Linked DNA regions of Homo sapiens: all the other regions are linked to region 1. Evidence: fine-mapped expression QTL. A gene starts in region 1. Each other region holds a variant in brackets. All regions are shown on one strand. Distances are from middle to middle.

What was found. PIP is the estimated chance that this variant, and not a neighbour inherited with it, causes the effect.
Region 2: its variant is the best candidate, but not a certain one, in a credible set for the expression of GALNT8 in whole blood (INTERVAL, PIP 0.87).
Region 3: its variant is the best candidate, but not a certain one, in a credible set for the expression of GALNT8 in esophagus muscle (GTEx, PIP 0.83).

What each region holds. Positions count from the first base shown.
Region 1 is chr12:4,717,992-4,724,484 of GRCh38, reverse strand. It overlaps GALNT8 (polypeptide N-acetylgalactosaminyltransferase 8), which reads right to left and starts at 4,085. Exons shown (of 11, transcript NM_017417.2): 1 at 3,597-4,085. The coding sequence starts at 3,807. GAU1 (GALNT8 antisense upstream 1) reads left to right here and starts at 4,383. Exons shown (of 4, transcript NR_110112.1): 1 at 4,383-4,620. RefSeq lists enhancers at 1,977-2,972, 2,973-3,968, 3,969-4,964.
Region 2 is chr12:4,803,729-4,810,895 of GRCh38, reverse strand. KCNA6 (potassium voltage-gated channel subfamily A member 6) reads right to left here and starts at 1,562. Exons shown (of 1, transcript NM_002235.5): 1 at 1-1,562. The coding sequence starts at 854. KCNA6-AS1 (KCNA6 antisense RNA 1) reads left to right here. Exons shown (of 3, transcript NR_199077.1): 3 at 4,028-6,411. The variant A/G (reference allele first, on the strand shown) is at 2,732.
Region 3 is chr12:4,739,635-4,746,801 of GRCh38, reverse strand. GALNT8 (polypeptide N-acetylgalactosaminyltransferase 8) reads right to left here. Exons shown (of 11, transcript NM_017417.2): 4 at 2,102-2,285; 5 at 1,176-1,373; 6 at 544-658. Among named protein-coding and RNA genes, the nearest start is that of GALNT8, 23 kb to the right of the region's middle. The variant G/A (reference allele first, on the strand shown) is at 3,306.

The DNA of each region.
Region 1 (6,493 bases):
CTCATGGCTATCAGTGGGAGCTGGTTTGGACCTGGCCATCCTAAAGTCAATTTGAGGAAATGCACAATCCGGTAGTATGAATACAGTGTCACTAGGTTATCCCCATAACTTATACTGAAACTTTCCAAGCCCCAAAACAGACACATCCATTGACATTCCCCTAGTGGGGCTTTTATGAACCCTGAGGGAGGTTCCAGAAAACTGGCTTAGAGTCATTGATCCCTCCCTCAATAGGGATATAATTATTATTGTTTGCATTTGCTCTTGGTAGCTTACATGATTCAACTAAGTATCCTTATTGACTTCTGATTTTTTTTTTTTTTTTTTTTTTTTTTTGAGACGGAGTCTCGCTCTGTCACCCGGGCTGGAGTGCAGTGGCACGATCTCAGCTCACTGCAACCTCCACCTCCCAGATTCACGCCATTCTCCTGCCTCAGCTTCCCGAGTAGCTGGGACTACAGGCGCCCGCCACCACGCCCAGCTAATTTTTTGTATTTTTCTAGAGACGGGGTTTCACCGTGTTAGCCAGGATGGTCTCGATCTCCTGACCTCGTGATCCACCCGCCTCGGCCTTCCAAAGTGCTAGGATTACAGGCGTGAGCCACCGCGCCCGGCCGACTTCTGATTTTTTTAAATCTTCCTGGAATCCTGGAGGCAATGAGCAAACAGGATGAAGGGTAATTAAACAGGCTTTTAGTTATAGGAAGCTCTGTGGAAAAAAAAAAAAAAAAAAAGCATTGGTGATCTAGAAACAGGGCCCAGAAGACTTTTTGAGGTTCAACTCAGGTGGTAGTGAGTCTCTGACATCACAACATTTCAGAGCGAATAAAATGTGGGAGCACCAAGAATAACAAGAAAGATCTTTGCAAAAAAGGAAAGAGGAGTAAACCAGATGGCTCTGGCTGGCTCCTCATGGCACATTGTGTCCTAGCTGATGGAAAGAATAGCAGGGCTTTGGGTAGAACTCCTGCCATTTTACGGCTTGAGGAGGCTGAGCCAGTGTGATGAGCCTTGGGGATGGGTGAGACAGTCCTGGTGTGGTCTGGGTGCTCTGCCAAATAGTGAGGGTGGTGCTGGGGTCACCACCCTAGGTACACAGGCATCCTCCTGGTGAAGCTGCACCAAGCATATTTGCATGGGCAATGTCCGACCCACCCAGGTAAGCCAGGGCTTGTGGAGCTGATGATCTTCCCTCTGTTTCATCCACTCTCTTGCCCCGTATCACTCTTCCCTTCATCCCTGTCTGCCTGTCTTTTTCTCTCTCTTTCCTAGACACACCCACTCATTTATTCATCTATGGAATTTCGATGTATGAATAGAAATGAGTAGTGAATGAGACGTTCATGGAAACAGCACTTATGAAACTTGCTTTCCATAAAACTGTACCATAATAAAATATGATGAGTCTTATGAAGGAGGACGTGGAAGGTGCTATGGGTGCCTTAGGACTCCTCCTCTCTCCTTTTATTCTCTCCTTCTCTCCCATCACACTTTCCCTTCTTTTCTTCTTGTCTCCATACAAACTCTTTCACTCTCTCTCCCTGGACTCCCTCACTTCTCTGCTCCTTTCCTGTCCCAGCTCTTTTCTCCTCTCTCATCTCCCTTCTCACTCTCCTCGCTCTTTCCCTGATTTCTTCTCTCCCTTCCTTTTTCTCTTCCTGCCTTTCCTTCCACCCATCTCCCAGCCTCACCCTGAACCCTGACAATGCTCAGTTCTCATTTTAAAAGACACTTTCCCCAACTCCAGCCCCATGTGCACACACCTGGGCAGTCACATCCCTGCCCACACATAAAACACCTCCCTATGGGGTTCCAGCATTTGATCCCTGTTACCTGGGAGCAGGGGGAAATTGCTGCTTCCCTTGCTGAAGTTGGATGCACAGGCACATAAAATTCAGAGGCATTAGACTTCCATGGTGAGCCGGAATCACAAACAAACCCCAGAATGTGTTGAAATCTTACCCTTAAGTTTAAATGAGGAGGTTAAAATTTGGCACAGAGCAGTTTATAGATCACCTTCTGCATCTACTTCACAACCCTATTAGGTCAGGTTGATAACTATCACTATTGTTATCATCATCTCCATTTACAGACCAGGAACCTGAGGCTGAGAGAGAGAAGCACTTGCTCAAAGTCACACAACCACAATGGCACATCAGGATTCGATCTTAGGTCCTCTAACAAAGCCCTCATTAGTTCATGAAAGGAGCACACCGCAAAATGGAAGCGAGGCCCTTGCCCCAGAGATTGCCACCTCTCTTCAACAGCCCCTACCACACATAGGCGTGGGGAAAGGAAAGAGAGATCAGATTGTTACTGTGTCTGTGTAGAAAGAACTAGACATAGGAGACTCCATTTTGTTCTGTACTAAGAAAAATTCTTCTGCCTTGAGATGCTGTTAATCTGTAACCGTACCCCCAACCCCGTGCTCCCTGAAACATGTGCTGTGTCGACTCAGGGTTAAATGGATTAAGGGCTATGCAAGATGTGCTTTGTTAAACAGATGCTTGAAGGCAGCATGCTCGTTAAGAGTCATCACCACTCCCTAATCTCAAGTACCCAGGGACACAAAACACTGCGGAAGGCCACAGGGACCTCTGCCTAGGAAAGCCAGGTATTGTCCAAGGTTTCTCCCCATGTGACCATCTGAAATATGGCCTCGTGGGAAGGGAAAGACCTGACTGTCCCCCAGCCCGACACCCGTAAAGGGTCTGTGCTGAGGAGGATTAGTAAAAGAGGAAGGAACGCCTTTCTGCAGTTGAGACAAGAGGAAGGCATCTGTCTCCTGCCCGTCCCTGGGCAATGGAATGTCTCGGTGTAAAACCCGATTGTATATTCCATCTACTGAGATAGGAGAAAACCGCCTTAGGGCTGGAGGTGGGACATGCGGGCAGCAATACTGCTGTTTAAGGCATTGAGATGTTTATGTGTATGCATATCTAAAGCACAGCACTTAATTCTTTACCTTGTCTATGATGCAGAGACCTTTGTTCACGTGTTTATCTGCTGACCTTCTCTCCACTATTATCCTATGACCCTGACACATCCCCCTCTCCGAGAAACACCCAAGAATGATCAATAAATACTAAGGGAACTCAGAGGCTGGCGGGATCCTCCGTATGCTGAACGCTGGTCCCCTGGGCCCCCTTATTTCTCTCTACATACTTTGTTTCTGTGTCTTTTTCTCTTCCAAAGTCTCTCGTTCCACCTAACGAGAAACACCCACAGGTGTGGAGGTGCAACCCACCCCTTCAATAGGCCTAAGGACAGGTCTATGGCCCTTGGGATTCTTATTCTTCTCGTTGCCTGCACATATGTAGATATAATGATAATGCATGTGCACAAGCCCACACACGCATACACACACACATGCTCACCTCCCCCATACTGCTTGCTCTAATTTCCACTTCTACTCACTTCATTCTCAATACCCATCTCCCATTTGAAGGCACAGAATTCAGTGTCAGATGCTTCAATGAGCGACTGAGATGAAAATGTGACCTCTCACCCATTTTTCCTTCCATATCCCTTTTTCCTAAGTGCCCCAAACACACACACCCACACACACACCTTCCAGGTTAGCATTGTAAACTTACTCAGATCCTGCAATTCCACCTCCAAGTGGGAGAGTCTCTTTATCACTGCCCCGTAGCGTTTATTCAGATGTAAAGGAAGCTCCCTGTGGAGACCACCCGTAAACAGGTTTTGTAAAGTCCCCTTGCTAGAAAATACCAGAAGGAGATTGACAGCAATGGCCAGAGTCAGCCCAATGAAGAGGGCTTTGGGGAGTTTCCTCCAAAACATCATCTTCTTCCTGGGGGTCGTCCACTCCCTGTGGGACTGAGTGTGTCACTGCTGGAGCAGGTTAAGAATCAGAACCAGCCTAGCTTTTGTGGGAAAGAGAGTTCTAGGTGCCAGTTGAGTTGGTCTCCCCTGTGTGAGACACCCATGGGAAGCCACGGGTGGCCTCTGAGGAGCAAAGTCTCCTTATTGCCTTCTTTGTCTTTATGCCCCGAGAGGATAACCGCTCAGCGGCTTTCCACAGGTTGCTCAGCGGCTTTCCACAGGTTGCTCAGGGAGATAACACTCCCTTGAAGCAGAGGAGTATAATCAAACATCTTGGCTCCTCCTGAAACCCACTCCCACCCATTTCAGTCATTAAAGATCTTAAGTAGTTTAGACACACGCCTTTGCTCAAGGAAATTCACAGAAACCGCCACTGTTACACATCTTATCGAATGACTCACTGATTAATCCTTTTCCTCATCCCTTCCTCCCCTTCCCATCTGCCCTAAGAACAAAGAGCTTGTAAACCAATAAATTGGGTGGAGCCCAGAGCTCTGGGCCGTGAGCAAGCCTCCAACGCTCTGGTCCCCTGGACCTGCCTTTTAAACGCTTGTTCTGTCTCTTTCTAACTCCTTTGTCTCCGCCGGACTCGGGGTATCCGCTGGGTGGTGTGGGGCTGGTTTCCCCAACAGCTTTCTCTCCACCCAGCTTCATAGATGACACCCTGCCTGCTAGGCCAGATGTTCTCCGGCCAAGAACACTATTATAGCTGCCTGGCTTCTCCCTGAGCAGCGTCAGGTGTGAGGAGTGCGCATGGCAGCTGCCCAGTGACAGGTAAGTCACCTGGACACACCTTGTACTGTCTCAGAAGTCAGAAGAATGCTTGCTCCTGCAGCTAGCTCAGGCTGCCTGGGTGAGAGGCTTTTCTCTATATATGTTTGTTTGATGTTTAATGTTCTCTCTCCCTGGAAAAACCACCTGGGAGACTCTGATAGGGCATGTGAGGTCTGGTCCTGTGGGTATAAGAAGGGGATAAATAGGATGAAGAAGAAATCACGAAGCAAGAAGTCTCTGTACACTTAGATCCTTGCTTTTTTGGAGAGCTGGGATCTAAGATGTCTTTTTACCTAACTCTACAGGGTTTTGGACATAGTAGGTGTGCAACAAATGCTTGTCCCACAAACTTAAGGACAGACTTTCTTGCTAGTTCCTAGGACTTCACTGCCTAGAAGCAGGTGGAGAAGAGCTGGAGGCGGTGCCCGGGGTTGAGCCTCAGGGGATGACTCCGATTCACTGGTCTCTGTCCTTTGCTTGTCCTCTGCACAACTTCATACACTGGGCTTCTGCCCTGCCCCAGCTTCCAGTAACTCCTTTGCCTCCACACCTCACACTTATAATATGTTTTGGACAAATCACCAGTGATCATCATTGTAGAATAAACACATAAAATTGTTCCCCAAGGCTAAAAGTTCAAAGTTCTCAGTCTACTGTCAATCCCGTCAAAATCACAGCTTCCACCCCGGCCTGGCTCTTTGGACTATTTACTACGTCCCAAACACAGCACATGGTGACATGTGCTGAGGCGGACATGTGGATTAAAGGAAAGTAATGTGGCTTTAGGAAAAACAGGATGAAAATGAACAAAATGAAAAGGAATCACTTCTTCTGTTTCGCAGGGATAGAAAATGTCTCCCAGCCTCCCACTTGCAAATTAGACTCAAAACATAAGAAACGCATGATCCAGCCAGGCGCAGTGGCTCACGCCTGTAATCCCAGCACTTTGGGAGGCCGAGGCAGGTGGATCACCTGAGGTCAGGAGTTCAAGACCAGCCTGGCCAACATGGTGAAACGCCATCTCTACTAAAAATAACAAAATTAGCTGGGCATGGTGGCAGGCACCTGTAATCCGAGCGACTTGGGAGGCAGAGGCAGGAAAATCGCTTGAACCCAGGAGGCGGAGGTTGCAGTGAGTCGAGATCGCGCCACTGCACTCCAGCCTGGGCAACAAGAACAAAACTCCATCTCAAACAACAACAACAACAACTACAAAAAACAAACAAACAAAAAAGCATAACCCTTCTGCTTCTGGGACAAGAAGAAATACCTACATTTATCTTCTCTATTCCTTCCCATCAAGGCAAGTAAAAAGTACACATGATATGTAAAACAAACCTAAGAAGACTCTGAAAGGTAGAGAGAACAGGGCAGGCTGACTAGAGATCTCCAGATATCCTAGCTATTGTAGGAAATAGATTCCAAGTTGCTGGATGCTGGAGCAGTCAACAACTTGGAAATGCAATGGGCAGAGACAATAGAAGCCCCAAGAAAAAGCTGCTTTCTCTAACCAAAGAAACAGGAAATGGGAAGCCTAGCAAGACAGAAGATGTTTAGACAACAACTGCCCTACTCCAGCCAAATGCCACTGAAAACCTTGCAGTGCCATGCCCACCACATCCACAGAGGCCTCGTGGGGAGCCTAGACTTCCAACCTCACCCCAGCTGTGAGGGTTTGCCCCTGCATCCCCCACCTTCCCCTCCAGGGTGTGTCAGTGAAGGTCTCTTGGGGAGCTGGCATTTTTGTCATTGTCCCCACATGATATCAGTAAAGGAACAGTGGCCCTCCCCTTTTCAGCCAGTGTGGTGTCAGCAGAGGGCTAGTGGGGAACCTGAACTCCCTCCCTCACCCATCAGTAATGAGGCAGCCCTC
Region 2 (7,167 bases), 86 kb before region 1:
CAGGCGGAGAAGCGCACCAGGAGCTCAAAAGTGAACCAGACAATGCACAGCGTCTCCACCAGAAAGAAGGGGTCTGTAAAGAAGGAGCCCCCAAGAGTACTGAGTGAGGAGGAGCCCCCGGTCCCCATTTCCCCAGGGGTGATGCCATGATGAAATGTGTAGGAATCGTCTTCATCCTCCTCTTCCTCCTGACTCCCCCTGGAAACTGGGGAGACTCGACTCACACCACCATTGTTTCCACCTCGACCATCTACACGGAACTGGGGTAAGGTCTCCAGGCAAAAGATGACTATGGAGATGAGAATGACCAACACGGAGACGATGGCGATGCCCCTGGCCGGCCCAGAGCTCTCTGGGTACTCAAAGAGCAGCCACACCTGGCGCTGGAAGGGCTGGGAGGGCAGCGGCTTCTCGTCCTCGCCACCTTCGGGCAGGCAGCCCTCGTCCTCCCGGAAGGCCGCCAGGGCCTCGTCCCCCAGCTGGTAGAAGCGGATCTCCTCCAGGAAAATGTCCAGGGGCACGTTGACCGGCCTCCGCAGGCGGCCCCCAGACTGGTAGTAGTAGAGGATGGCGTCGAAGCTGGGCCGGTTGCGGTCGAAGAAGTACTCGTTCCTCAGGGGGTCGAAGAAGCGGACTCGCCGGCCAGGGTCTCCGAGCAGCGTGTCCGGAAACAGCGACAGGGTGCGCAATTGTGTCTCAAAGCGCAGCCCGGAGATATTGATCACCAGCCGCTCGCTACTACAGCAGCCCCCGCCCCCGCCGGCCTCCGGGAAGTCTCCCGCATCCTGTTGCTCTCCCTCCGGCCCACGGACCTCCCCCGGCGCCGCCAGCGTAAGGGATTTCTCCGATCTCATGCCCCCTCGGAGGTGCGCTCCCCGCCACTAGGACGGCGCCCACGACACAATCTCTGGAGCGCGGCACCCGCTCCCCAGCTCCCGGCTGCGCCCTCTTTAGGGTGGGGCCCGCGCTCCTCCCGGTTCGCGGTCTGACCTGGCCGTTGGGTCCGTGAGCCCTAAAGCCCTGGTCCCTGCAAGGCTGGGTCTGGGGAGGTGACCTGGGCGCTGGGGATTTGGTTCTGCGCTTCCCGTTACCCGCGCCCGGGTGCTAGAGCTTACTGGGATGCCCGGAACCGCACACAGGCGCGTGTGAAATTGGCTGCCCGAAAAGACGCGTGGCTTCGCCCCCAGCGGTGCCTGAGACCCGGCTCCCGGACGCAGAGGTCCGCCCTCCAGCCGGGCTAGCTCTTCCCAGTTCCCACTGCGCTCCTCCAGCCGCTCCGGACCCCCGGCTGCCGCTGGTACCGAAGCGCCAGATGCGCCTCCCTCCGGCTCGGCAAAGACTCCTGGCGGGGCTCGGCCTCCGCCCTGCGTCCACCGCGGGGCTGGGTCCGGCCAAGGTCGCGGTTCCGGCCGCCACAGCCGCCACCTCCTCCCTAGGAGCCGCGCCGCAGGCCTCGCAGAGGGCCCGGGGCTGCCCCGGCGCCCGAGCGCGGGGACCCACCTCCCCACGGCTCAAGGCTTCGCTGCCGCCGCCGCAGCTGCAGCGGCTCGGCTCTCCGCTCTGCCCTTCCTTCCCAACACACACTCTCCAAGTGACGTGGCAGGCCCCGCCTGCTGCCCCCTCCCACCCCACTCCCACATCACACCCCTCGCCCAGCCAGGGGCTGCCGCGAGCCAGGGCGCCATGGAAATAGACGCACACTTGCCTCACCAGTAAGCTTTCCCGCGCTCTCCTGGCACGCCTCTCGCTTTCACACGTTCACATTCGCGCCCCCCTCCACAAGCGCCGGCACCCTAATACCACACCCCCTCCACCCCCGCAGTCGGCTCTTCTCATTTCAATTTACCGAGTTGACCTGCGCAGTGTATTTCATCAATAAGAAGACACACCCCGCCCCACCACACAATACGGAGCACTGTGCATCCACTCATACAGAAATCTAAAGAAAACATTAAATCATACATTCTTCTGTCTTCAGGAAGACCCGTTTGCCAACCTCTCCAATATCTACAGGAAAAAAAAAATAGAGAAAGTATTTTTGAGATGCCTTGAGAGCTTCCGATTTAAATTCCAATATAATTCTCCGTCTACCTTTGCAAGCCTGGGAGGGCGGGGCTGCAACTCTCCCAGAATTGCAAAGGGATGGTAGAGAAAGGGTGGCAAGTCAATCAATGCCTTTCCCATCAGAAGATTTCCAGGGGAGTCCTGAGAGCCTGAGGCAACAACCCCAGTGAGGAAGGACCCAGAAGATGGAAGCACCTCAGAGATACCTCAGCCCAGGGCACAGTGCACCCTGGGGATCCTTTGCTCCCAACCACCCCGAAGGATGCATCTGGAATTTCTGCTTATTGGGTGACCAAAAAAAGGGAGAAGAGGGTGAGTGGAAAAGGGGTATGTAAGAGTGTTGATTGAAAAAATAATAGCTACATTTACTGGGCATTGAATATGTGCCAGCCACATTCTAGGTGCTTTCCCAGAAAGATGTCCTCTCCTTGTAGGCCATGTTACAACAAAGACCCCTTTGGCAGTACTGGAGTAGGGCAAAGTTTGTTGTTAGGGACCAGCTGACTCTTCCCTAACTCTCCAGCAAGAAGGTGATAAGAATGGTTTTCCATCCATTTCTGTCTTTCTTCACGAGACCAGACAAGTTGGGGTCTGGTAGAGGAAGACTCAACTGATCTTTTCAGACTGACACTTCCAGGTAGGGTTGACATTTGCTTCTCTGTGCCTC[A/G]GTTTCCTCTTTTCTGGCTGGCTGTAGCCAAAATGAATTGGCTAACAACTACAAAGTGTTTTTGTGTAGCTTCTGGTGCATATTAGATCATTAGTATGCATTCATTGAGGTTAATGATGAGAATGACACATAAAGGTGCTCTCAAACCACAGGATGCATCTGAGAGTTCTTTGTATTGCACGGAGTATTTTAAAACCACAGTGGTTCTCAGCAGCATTCACTCTCAGAGAGTTGGAGGAAGGAGAGAACCAAGGCTCCTGGATGTGTCGGGAAGGGATCAGGTGTTGAGTGGGTAAGAAATGTGCTAGTATTAGAACTCACTGCATGCTCATTCTCCAGTCTTGCTCCTCACCAGTTGAGCCAGGCAACAGCCTCTGCTCCCTTTCTGTGCTTGCACAGCTGATTTCTGGCACCAACGCCCTGTGGGCTTTTTTGATCCCCCAGGATAGAAATCAAAAGAGATCACAGCATACAGTAGCAAAGAGAAAGATTTTATGAAAGCTTATGGACATAAGGGACCAAACACCAAGAAAGGAAGTGGGTTGCTCTCCAAAGTCAAGGTGTGGGTTCCCTTTGTGGAGGTCTGCAGTAAGGGGAAGTCAGGGCATGTAGAGGTGAGGTTTTTCGGGCACATGTACGGTGGCTTAAGATGCTGCTTCATACAACATATGTCTCATTAGCATCTTAAATCTCCACCTGTGGGCATGATTTTTAGTACTAAAATAAGGAAAAGTTCATGATGAGGTGAAAGTTAAGCCTAGCTAGGCACGTAGGGCCTCAGAAAGGTCCTTAGTTCTCTAAAGCAAGGGGTTAATTAATTTGTGGTTAATAGCTTCTTGGGCCTTTGATGCTGACTGGCTGGGAGTTACAGCTTGAGTAAAGGGCTTTTGTTCTTTTTTCTCCAAACCACATCACAACAGGAAAGCAGCCAGCTTGCCCATCTCATGCTTGCCTGTCTCATTTCCACTCCTTTCTCTCACCTTGCATGTTTCCGTGAAGGGAGAGAAAGCAAGTACATGGAGTCATCCAGCGGAGTTTTCTCACTTACAGACTATGTAATTAAGCCATTTAGACTCCACACAAAAGTTGCTCTGTTTAAAAAATCTTTTTGAAAGAAAAGAAAAAAAAGGAAACCAACAGCAAATACACTATAGAAGATACTCTTTACCCCCATCCAGTTATCTGTCACTTTACCCTTATCCAGTTATCTGTCATTATTTTCTGAGTCATAAATTGACTAACCCCTGATTCTTTTTGTTTTTGTTTTCAAATTCATAATGAATGATTCATTTGCAGGTTTGTTTTCATCATTGCCATTTTTATTCACGAGACTGTCAACTAGGTCAGTAATTCTTCAAAACCAATCCTGGCAAAGCATGGGAAGGAACCTTCGTTCTGCAGAAGCGTACACACCCTGATAAGGTGTCAAGAACCTCCGTTTGAGTACCCCTCGGGTTAAGCCTGACTGGGCTGCCGGCCACCCTTCAGGCAGAGCTGATGTTCTGTGATGACCTTCACATCAAGCATGAGGTCGTGCCCCAAGAAGGGTTTCACTGTGCCCAGGGAGGTTCCCCTGAGAAGGACAAGCCATTGGCAAATTCATGAATCAGAGTTCTGTTTTTAGTTCTTTTGTGAAATAGACTCATTTCTTAGCTTAAGAAAAACCCTATGCCTAGATCATTCCCCCCAAGCGTATGTTAAGGATGAGTACAATCACACCTTCAGAAATGCCAGTTCCCAGGTGAAGGAAGACACAGCTCCATCCATAAACACTGCCAAGTGGCTTCCAATGGCAGGGGATTTTTCCCCAGCATTCACCAAGCACCAATTTCATGCCAGCACAGATTTTGTTGTTATTTTTTGTTGTTGTATCCAGATTCAGATGTTTGCCATGGTCATAGCAATCATTCATTTATTTAAAAAGTATATATTGAGCAGCTACTGAGTGCCAGCATGGTGCCAGGTGCTGAGGATTTAGCAGTGATCTATACAAAATATCTGCTTTGATAAGCATACATTTTCATGTAATAAATTACATTATAGACAGAAAATTTTAACAGTAGACAATAAGGAAAATAATTCCATATTGCAGTAAATGCCTTGAGGAGGATAAATGGGATGCCATGTCAGAAATGAACTTGGGGACTCAACTTTGCAAGGGTAGCTGGAAAAGTTCCCTCTGAAGAGGTAGTATTTCAACTGACAATCCAAAGAGGAGAATGGAGCCTGGCACGGTGGCTCATGCCTGTAATCCCAGCACTTTGGGAGGCTGAGGCAGGTGGATCACCTGAGGTTAGGAGTTCAAGACCAGTCTGACCAACATGGCAAAACTCTGTCTCTACTAAAAATGCAAAAATTATCTGGGCATGGTGGAGGGCACGTGTAGTCCCAGCTACTTGGGAGGTTGAGGCAGGAGGATCGCTTTAACCTGGGAGGTGGAGGTTGCAGTGAGCCGAGATTGTACCACTGCACTCCAGCCTGGGTGACAGAGGGAGATTCTGTCTCAAAAATAGATAAGAGAATGGGGCCACAGTGCCAAATGCAGGGAAGAGCATTCCAGACTGACAAGTGCAAAAGCCCTGAGCTAGAAAGGTCATGGGTGTTCAAGGTCAAAAAGAAGGCCGTGCGCTGGGAGGAGAATGGGCAAGGGAAAGGGAGGTGCAAGATAAGATTGAAGAATTAGCAAGGGTACCATCTTATAGGGTGAGGTGTTCAGGTTTTATCTTAAGGGCGGTATGAAGCCAATGATGGTTTTCAAGCAGAGGAGAGACGTGATGTGATTTACTTAGAGGCTGGGAGGGGAATGAATTATGAAGAGGTAGAAGAAGAAATAGAAAGACCAGGAAATTGCAGTCGTCTGGGGAAAAGATGATGGTGACTTGGGCCAGAGAAAGGTAGAGTCAGTAGAGATAGAGTGGAGAGGAGGTGAGGAGAACTGAGGAGGTATGTTTAGATGATAGAATCAGCAGGAATTAGTCATCAATAAAACATGAGAAATAAGCAGCCAATGCCAAGCTCAAGCAACTAGGCAGGTAGGTGTCGCCCTTTACTGAGAAAGGGAAGACAAGGGGTTAAACAAGTTGGGATGCGTCAAGACCTCACCTTTAGATGTTTTACATTGGAGAGGGAAATTATACATGCAAATTAAGACATCAAGGAGGCAGTTATTTATTTAGGTCTGGAATATGAAAAAGAAACTTACGATTTATGAATTTAAGACATCTAGAAATATATACATTCATGGCACCAAGGTCTTCTGCAGAAACAGAATATGGACAACGAGGAGAAATGACCAGGACCAAGTCCTTCACAGCAGTCTTCAATCTACCGGTCAAGGTCAGGAGGAAGGGCAGCCAGCATAGGAGGCTGAGGGGTTGTAGGTGAAGTCAAAGGAAAGCCAAGAGATGGAGAGCTCCTGGAAACCAACAACCAGGACTAGACCCCAGGGGCCCCATCCTCCTGGGCCCACGCTGGCCTTCCAGTGGAACACATGATCTGCAACAGGTCAGGAGTACGTGGGGGGCATCCATGGGAAGAACCACCTAAGAATGGACGTATGTGCCCACAAGATGAGCACAGATAATGTGAAGCATTGTGTGATAACCATTTATATTCTGACCTCTGCCCTAGGTTCTAAAATGTACCTATTCCAGGTATATAAATGACATAAATGATCTGTCTTCCAGGCTTCTTTACATTTTTATTTTGCTGTGTGTGTGTGTGTGTGTGTGTGCACTTGTCATCATTCTGGTAATACGATCCCTGAAGTTTTCCTCTTTCTCTGTGTAACCTCTGAAAATGGTTCTCCTCATGGTCCTGTCACCCACAGGCCCCTGCTCTGAGGACAGGGTGGCGAGTCGTCAGCTCCCTTACCTCTTACTGAGAGAACACAACACTTGTGCACAAGCACGGAACACCCTCCCTAGAATGACCCACCCCACTCTTGAGCTTTCCACTGTGGAATCCAAACCACTCAGAGCCAGTGAGAAGCAGGGGTGATGAGTCTGAGCCCGTGTCCCTCCTCTCACCATCTCACTCTGGGCAAGGCTCTGCCCTCGAGCTTTGGTTCTTCAGCGTGTTCCAAGTGGAAGCTCCTCTGTCCAAACACAGCGTTCTGCCTGGCCCAACTCCCTTCTCTGGTCCCCTCATTCACCCCTTTCCCCAGGGTCTGGGTCATGTTTACTCCTTCTCTTAACCTTCTCCTACTTTTTCTGCTGGAGAGAGAAGACAGCATTGAATCCTGGGGAAGAAGGGGAGAAAAATGGATGACCGGGTAATTCTATACTTTGCAGTCAATTTTTGCTGTTTTCCTTTTGTTCCCCTCCTTCTACACACACACACACACACACACACACACACACCAAAAATTTGGTCATCTGAGAGTTACATTAAAAAGAAGTCAGATATCTTGAACTTCGAGGGTTAATTTCCTGCAG
Region 3 (7,167 bases), 22 kb before region 1:
CAGGTGTGAGCCACCGTAACTGGCCGGGTTTGAGGATTTCAGTTATATAATGATAAAAACCTGGCTATTTGTCTTAGATTAGACTATATCTCAGCACAAACTCAGGCTATCACGTCAGCTGCTCTGGCTGTGAGTACAGAAGCAGGCTGGCTGCCCACACGTCTGCATTCCCTAGTCACGCTGCCCACTCCTGTTTTTGCTGTCTTTGGCCTTCTAGAGAATTGTCTGCTCCAAGGTTAAGTTTATCCCAGGAGATGCTTGAAAAATGCCCAGAGTCCTCAAGTGAAATAGGGACATCTATCTATTCAATCCCAACTTGACCCCTTCCCACCCCACCTCCCAGATTATATGGGCTATACCAGGAGTGTCCACTCCAGAAGTCCTATTGCCCCCCGTCCTTGGCCCAGTTGCCTAGAAACATAAGAATGTATCCACCTTTGAGCCAATGACATTCAGCCTTGTTCTAGGATTCCAGGGGTCCTACTACCTTTCTATTATTCCCCTTTCTGCTTTGTCCCATAAAGAAAAGGGAAATGTACCCACCCTCAGGCTAAGCTCCACGTTCTCTCCTCCATAGATGAGCATTCCACCATCCAGAGACCCGATCTCTCCCAGGAAGTGCCTGTTAGCAGCCAGGATGCCCATGATTGAAGGACTCCTACAGAGCACACAGCAAGAGTCACTAATCTCTCCATAAGGAGCGGAGGCGAGGGGTGGGATGCTCAATGATTATTTGGGCTTCAGAACTCTACCTAAGTCTGTTCTTATCATGAAGGCCTTCCCTAAACTCTCAGGCAAGACTAAGTGCATGTAGCTTTCCCTCGCCCACTGCGTTATCATAACCCTTCTCAAAATATATTGAAATTACACCTTTTTCTTCTAGGTATCCTTACTTCATAGTCTGCTAAAGCTTGAAATGGCCCAAATGTTTTCCAAAATTTTAAGTGTTTTGCTTGATTTTTGTCTGAAAGTCCCTAAATATCCCAAAGTGTCTGTGATTTCTTAACTGGGATAACTTATTGGGGTTTTTTCCCTCTATCCCTTGTCCTTCACCTCATCCCCTCCCCTCCTTCCACGTCACCCCAATTACTACCACCAAAGATAAACAAAATCCATTCAGTTCATTCCTGCCTTCCCACATGCTACTCAAGTTCCCTGAATCTCCTCAGACTTACTTCACTGGGGCAGTGACATCATGCAGATCAATCCAGGCTTGTGGCAGTGCATCGTAGCGGCACCAGAGTTCCCAGTTAAACCCATCAACTGCCAGTTCATACTTATCCAGTTTGAAGGTGTCAAAACGAATGTTGTCAAACACAGGAGACACAATCACAGTGCGGTCCTCCTGAATCCGAGCCAAGATTGGCTCTGCCCTAGAACAAGAGTGTGCAGAAAGCCCAGCTTGGATATGAGGACAAGCAGTAGGGGAGAGCAGATAAAGCTGTTCCAAGCACCTTGCCCTGACATTGAGTACCTCCTCCATTTAGGCTGTACTGGGTTGTGAGTAGAACTCTCTAGAGTCCAGAGAATCTCTGTAACCTTTCGGGATAGCTGAAGCTGCTAGAAGCCAACCCGCATCGAGAACAGGTTTGAAATTAGTACCCAGGTAACACCCCCAGGCCGTTGTGAAGCAGCATTCTCAGTATGTATATTACTCCTTGAATTTACGTTATCTCTTGGTTCTCCGTTTCCAAAGTGATGCTTCTTTCCTGTCTGATTCTCCACATTCTCTAAAGAACATAGTTCTCTTTATTTTATTATGTAATTTCATGGCTGGGGAAAAACCTTTAAAATAACCAAAGGCTAATCTCCTCATCTTTACAGTTAAAGACACAATGTCTAGTTAAGTGAAGTGACTTACTCAAATTCACAAAGTATTTGGCAAAGTCAGCATTATGATCCAACTGTCAATACTCTCCACCATGCTACTTCTCTTAGCCAAGCAAAATCCCTGCATAAAAGCATGCTGTTTTGGAGATTCCCTTTATTTAAGGCCTGGTGCTGACTTTCCCTGTGTCCACAGTATCCTGTCTTGTGTTCAGTACATGCACAATATCTCCTCTCTGCCCTTTCCAGAAGAACTAGCCTCTTTGAGCCTTACCACCCAACATTGACTTCAATGTGAGCATCCAAGATGGCGACCACGTCTGCTGTGGCAGCTTCCCAGCCAGTGTTGCGGGCTTGAGCAAGACCTTTCCTTTCAGGATGCCGTATTATTTTCAGTAGTCCTGGATACTTCTGGTTGTAAAGCTTAATCTTCTCATCCAAGTGTACCTTTAGTTCTCCTGTCAATCAAGTGCACACCTATAGAAATTCTGAGTGCAACAATCAACGTGATACAAAAGTTTTATACTATCATATATTAGTGGCTGGACTACCTCCAGCATAAAATGGGCAATTCTAAGAGTCAACTAGAAAATAAGTAGTATTTCCCCTGCACCTGCCTCTCTTCTCCCTTGCACCTGAGGTGTACTGTGATCATTCCTAATGTCCTTTCCCTGACAGTTAAACTATCTTAAAATGATAATACTGCTTACTACGTGTCAGGCACTGTTATAAGTGCTTTTTCACGTTGAGAAGTTCTTGAGAGAATGAGTGGACAGATCTAGCCTAAGGTGCACAGGTTGATGGAAAACACTGCAGGAAGGCCTGGAACATCTTCATAGCTAAACTCTCAAAACTCTGGAGAATCCATAAATGACTAAAATTGTTTTGTTTTAGATATTCCCAGTTGACCTACTTAAGGACCAACTGGGACAGAATGCACAGATTAATCTCTTTGCCAGCTTCTAGCTAGTAAATTTAGCCCAAAAATTATGCAAACAAGATTCACTATTCCTAGATTGTTTACAGGTAGTTTTCTTCCCTCTCTTCCCTCTCTTTTAATAAAGCTTGTCTATGGCTTTGTTCTTGGGCTCAGCCTACCACTGACTTCCTCACGTGTAAGTAAACCACTTGCAGGCAAATCACTTAGCAGTATGCAAAATATCTAACCAAATGACTCTGAGTTACTCATTGATAAAATTAATTCAGTTAATTCTGAAAGTATCTCATGTGGTAGGCACTACAATATCCCCACTTTACAGATAAAGAAACTGAGGCACAAAGAGTTTTAAAAACTTTTCCAAGTCACATATCTAGTAAGTGGCACGCCCTGGATGTGAACCTATGCTGTGTTTAGCCACCAGAACACCGTGTCTCAAGAACTCTGTGAGTACCTGGTTGGGTTTACCAAGTCCTCCCTCCCTCTCCTCTCTCCCCATAGCCAAGGAACGAGATTCTTGCCAGTTCCTCTCTCAAAAGAC[G/A]AGCATATTTGTGAGACCTAGAGTGATCAAGACCTGGAATCAACACCTAAGTGACTATGGCAGTAAAATTTACCCCATTTTAGATCTGCTGCACTCAAGAGTAATTGTCTCAATTATTGAAGGTGCTAAGCAGGGCCAGTACGTCTAAGGCTGTTTGCTTCCTCTGGGAGTAAGCTGGGGTAGCCAAGGTTGCCAGTCTGTACACTTACCCAGGCACTACTTTTAGTCAGTAATCCACAGGAGGCGCCACTGAACCTGAATATCTAGATTCTAATTCAGTCACTACATCATCCTGTGTCACTTCCCATTGGATGTGTCTGATTCCTCAACCTAGAGAAAAGTACCATAGTGGGCATGGTGGCTCATGCCTGTAATCCCAGCACTTTGGGAGCCTGAGGCAGATCAGTGCTTAAGCCCAGGCGATTGAGGCCAGCCTCGGCAACAGAGTGAGACTGTCTCTTTTTTAGAAAAACAAATATTAAAAATTTCAAGAAAAGTACCAAATAGTCAGGACCCTTCCAACTCCAAATTTTTATGAGCCATAGATTCTGAGTCACCTCCTGAAAAATAATGCCTATCATATAGCACAAAGATTAAGGACGCCTCGACGGGTTTTCTGAAGACAACCTATGCTCCCTTCCCAGCTTTGCCCTCCTACCGGTCTCCTCCCCAAAGCCTGCTATCCCAGGCTGGTCAGCTCAGGGCGCTTCCGGATTCCTCACTTTTGTTCACACCATTCCTTCGGCGCTCCCTAGCTCTCCACCCCGACCCAGTTTCCCAGTCTTCCCTCATTTTCTCTGCTGTCTCAAATCCTATGACGCCTTCAAGTCCCAATCCGAGCCTGCCTCCTCCAGGAACCCTCCTTAGATCACCACACCCCACACCCCCACACCGTGCTTTCTTTTGCTCACTGACGGTTCACTCGGTTTGTCACGTTATTCTTCACACATTAAGGTATCTTTCCACAGATGTGTCTTGCCTCATTAATTAAGAAGGAAACTTGAACTCTCTGACATCCTCCTCCCTGCCCAGTGGCTAGCACATGGTAGAAACTCAACATGTAGTTGTTGATTGTGAAATTTTCCTAAAATTAGGGAGAAAATACAGCATTCCACCTACCTTGATATAATTTTTAAAAAGCTTACATCTCACATAACATTTGAGTGACATTTAACATTTAAGCTCAAAATATTTGAGTGATGTGAATAAAGCTTAACATCTAGGGAAAGACAGAAAGGAGGCAAACCTCTGGCACCAGGTTGTGGCATTTCAAAAGTACTACAAATAACACTGAGATAGGTGAGGAGCAGAACACTAGCTAGCATGTAATGGGAACAGGCTCTCTCCTGAGGCCTTTACACGTATTATTTAATCCCAAAAGTGGTCCTATCAGGTAGGCACCATTATTCCCTGATGTTACAGATGCAGAAACTGAGGTGAGAAGTGGTTGAGTCACTTGCCCCCAAATTCACATGGATAGTGAGTTTCTCTTTCAGTAGACATGGTAGAGACTTCCATTTATTCTCCTGTTTAACATAAAACAGATATTTGAGTTATGCTCAGTGTAGGCTCAATTTGGCTGGTGTTTTCGTGGTTAATGACAGAGACTCTCTAATTCCTGTCCCTGTAACACCAAAGAATGGCTGACAGTCCCCTTTTCTGTGACCATCCAAACAAATCATCTCTGTGAAAAACAAACGTGGGTTTCAGACCTAAATGAGAGGAATGTGTTACAATGGAGTGCAGCTTAGAGCAATAAGAAAGCTTTGGTTTTTCTTTATGTGTCTACCCCGTGTTTGTAATCTTGTATTTTTTTATTGCATTGTTCCACAGGAAAAAATCCTGAATTAAGTCTTATCTACACCCCATGGAACATAGCGTATAGGCCATAGAGTATAGTATTGACTTTTTTTTTTTCCACAGAAAAAGATATCTTTCACAATATTCCAGCTCAACTCTTGTCTTTGCCTCATGAAGACCCTGAGTCCCAAAGAGGTGAGGGGACTTGCCTGACGTTGTCTCAGGCAGGGAGCAGAGCCAGAGTGTTTTCAGAAGTCCAAGGCAGAGGTCTTTCTAATCATGCTCCTATTTTTGGGGCAGAAAACCAGGTGTGCAATTCAGTACCAGTCTCCATGCCCAGAAATGAATGAAACTAGTCTCTTTTCTTTGGTTTTCAGCGGAATTTTGCTCTAAAAATTGTACCTTCTTATTTTTTGTTTAGTTACATTGGAAATAAAAAAAGAGGAAGGTATGCAAAGGATGAATATAAGTATTTTTAGTGTGGAAGTCTAAAAAAGAAGGTTTAAGCAGTCATTTTGTTTGCTCTCTCAGGAAGGTACAATAACCTATCTGGTACTTAAAGATCCTCAGAGAAGGAACATATTCTGCCTCCAATGAGCTGCCACTTCATAGCCCTTATAGTCAAGAAATTCTTCCTTACTGCTAGACCAAACCTCTAAGTTTTTGTAACTTAATTCTACTCTCTTTTATTTGTTGCACAAAATTAATAAAACTAAGAGCCAACAATTGCTGAGAGGCTACCATGTGCAAAATGCGTTACATAATTCATGTATTATAACGGGAACACAGTGGTTAGAACCAGGGCTCTGGACTCTGAAGTTCATGGTCAAATCTCAGTTCTGTCACTTACCAGCTGTAGGATGTTGAACAAGTTCCTTGATCAGTCTATGCCTTAGTTTTGCACATCTACACAATGGGTCAAAAAGTGATTCCTTCCTCATAGGGTTGTTGTAATGATTAAAATAGTTAACATGGCTGGGCACTGTGGCTCACACCTGTAATCCCAGCACTTTGAGAGGCCGAGGCAGGCAAACCATCTGAGATCAGGAGTTCAAGGCCAGCTTGGCCAACATGGTGAAACCCCATCTCTACTAAAAATACAAAAATCAGCTGGGTGTGGTGGCATACTCCTATAATCCCAGGTACTCAGGAGGCTGAGGCAGAAGAATTGCTTGAACCCGGGAGGTGGAGGCTGCAGTGCGCTGAGATCCCACCACTGCACTCCAGCCTGGATGATAAGACTGAAACTCCATCTCAAAAAAAAAAAAAAAAGTTAACACACGTAAGGTGCTTAGAACAAGCAATGTTAGCTGCCATTATGATCTCATTTAATTCTCACTATAGTTCATAAAATGGTTATTATTATCAACATCCATATTTTGTGTACAAGAAAATCAGAATATGAAGACGTTGAGTTACCCAAGGACCTAACACTTACAAAGGAGAAGCCGGGATTATGAACTCAGAAAGTGAGGACTCAGGTCTGTTATCTTCCACATCTCTTCCTTGGGTGGGCTAGACTCGGGGCACGGGCACCCTGTGGGCAAGAGCTGTTGCCACTATGAAGAGTCAGCACCCAAATCTCTCTTTTCTCCAGGCTTAATGACCCAGGGAGAGTGATCTGTTCCTCATAAGGAGCAACTCTAAGTCCCTTCCTGGTATCTGGAGTCCTTCTCTAGACTCTGCTTCAGCCCCCAGGCTTCTTCATGGTGCATAAGAGGGGCACAGGTGGCCGGGCACAGTGGCTCACGCCTGTAATCTCAGCACTTTCAGAGGCCGAGGCGGGCGGATCACGAGGTCAGGAGATCGAGACCATCATGGCTAACATGGTGAAATCTCGTCTCTACTAAAAAAATACAAAAAAATAAGCTGGGTGAGGTGGTAGGTGCCTGTAGTCCCAGCTACTCGGGAGGCTGAGGCAGGAGAATGGCGCGGACCCAGTAGGCAGAGCTTGCAGTGAGCCGAGATCCCACCACTGCACTCTAGCCTGAGTGACAGACCAAGACTCCATCTCAAAAAAAAAAAGAAAAAGAAAAAGAAAAAAAAAAAAAGAGGTACAGGT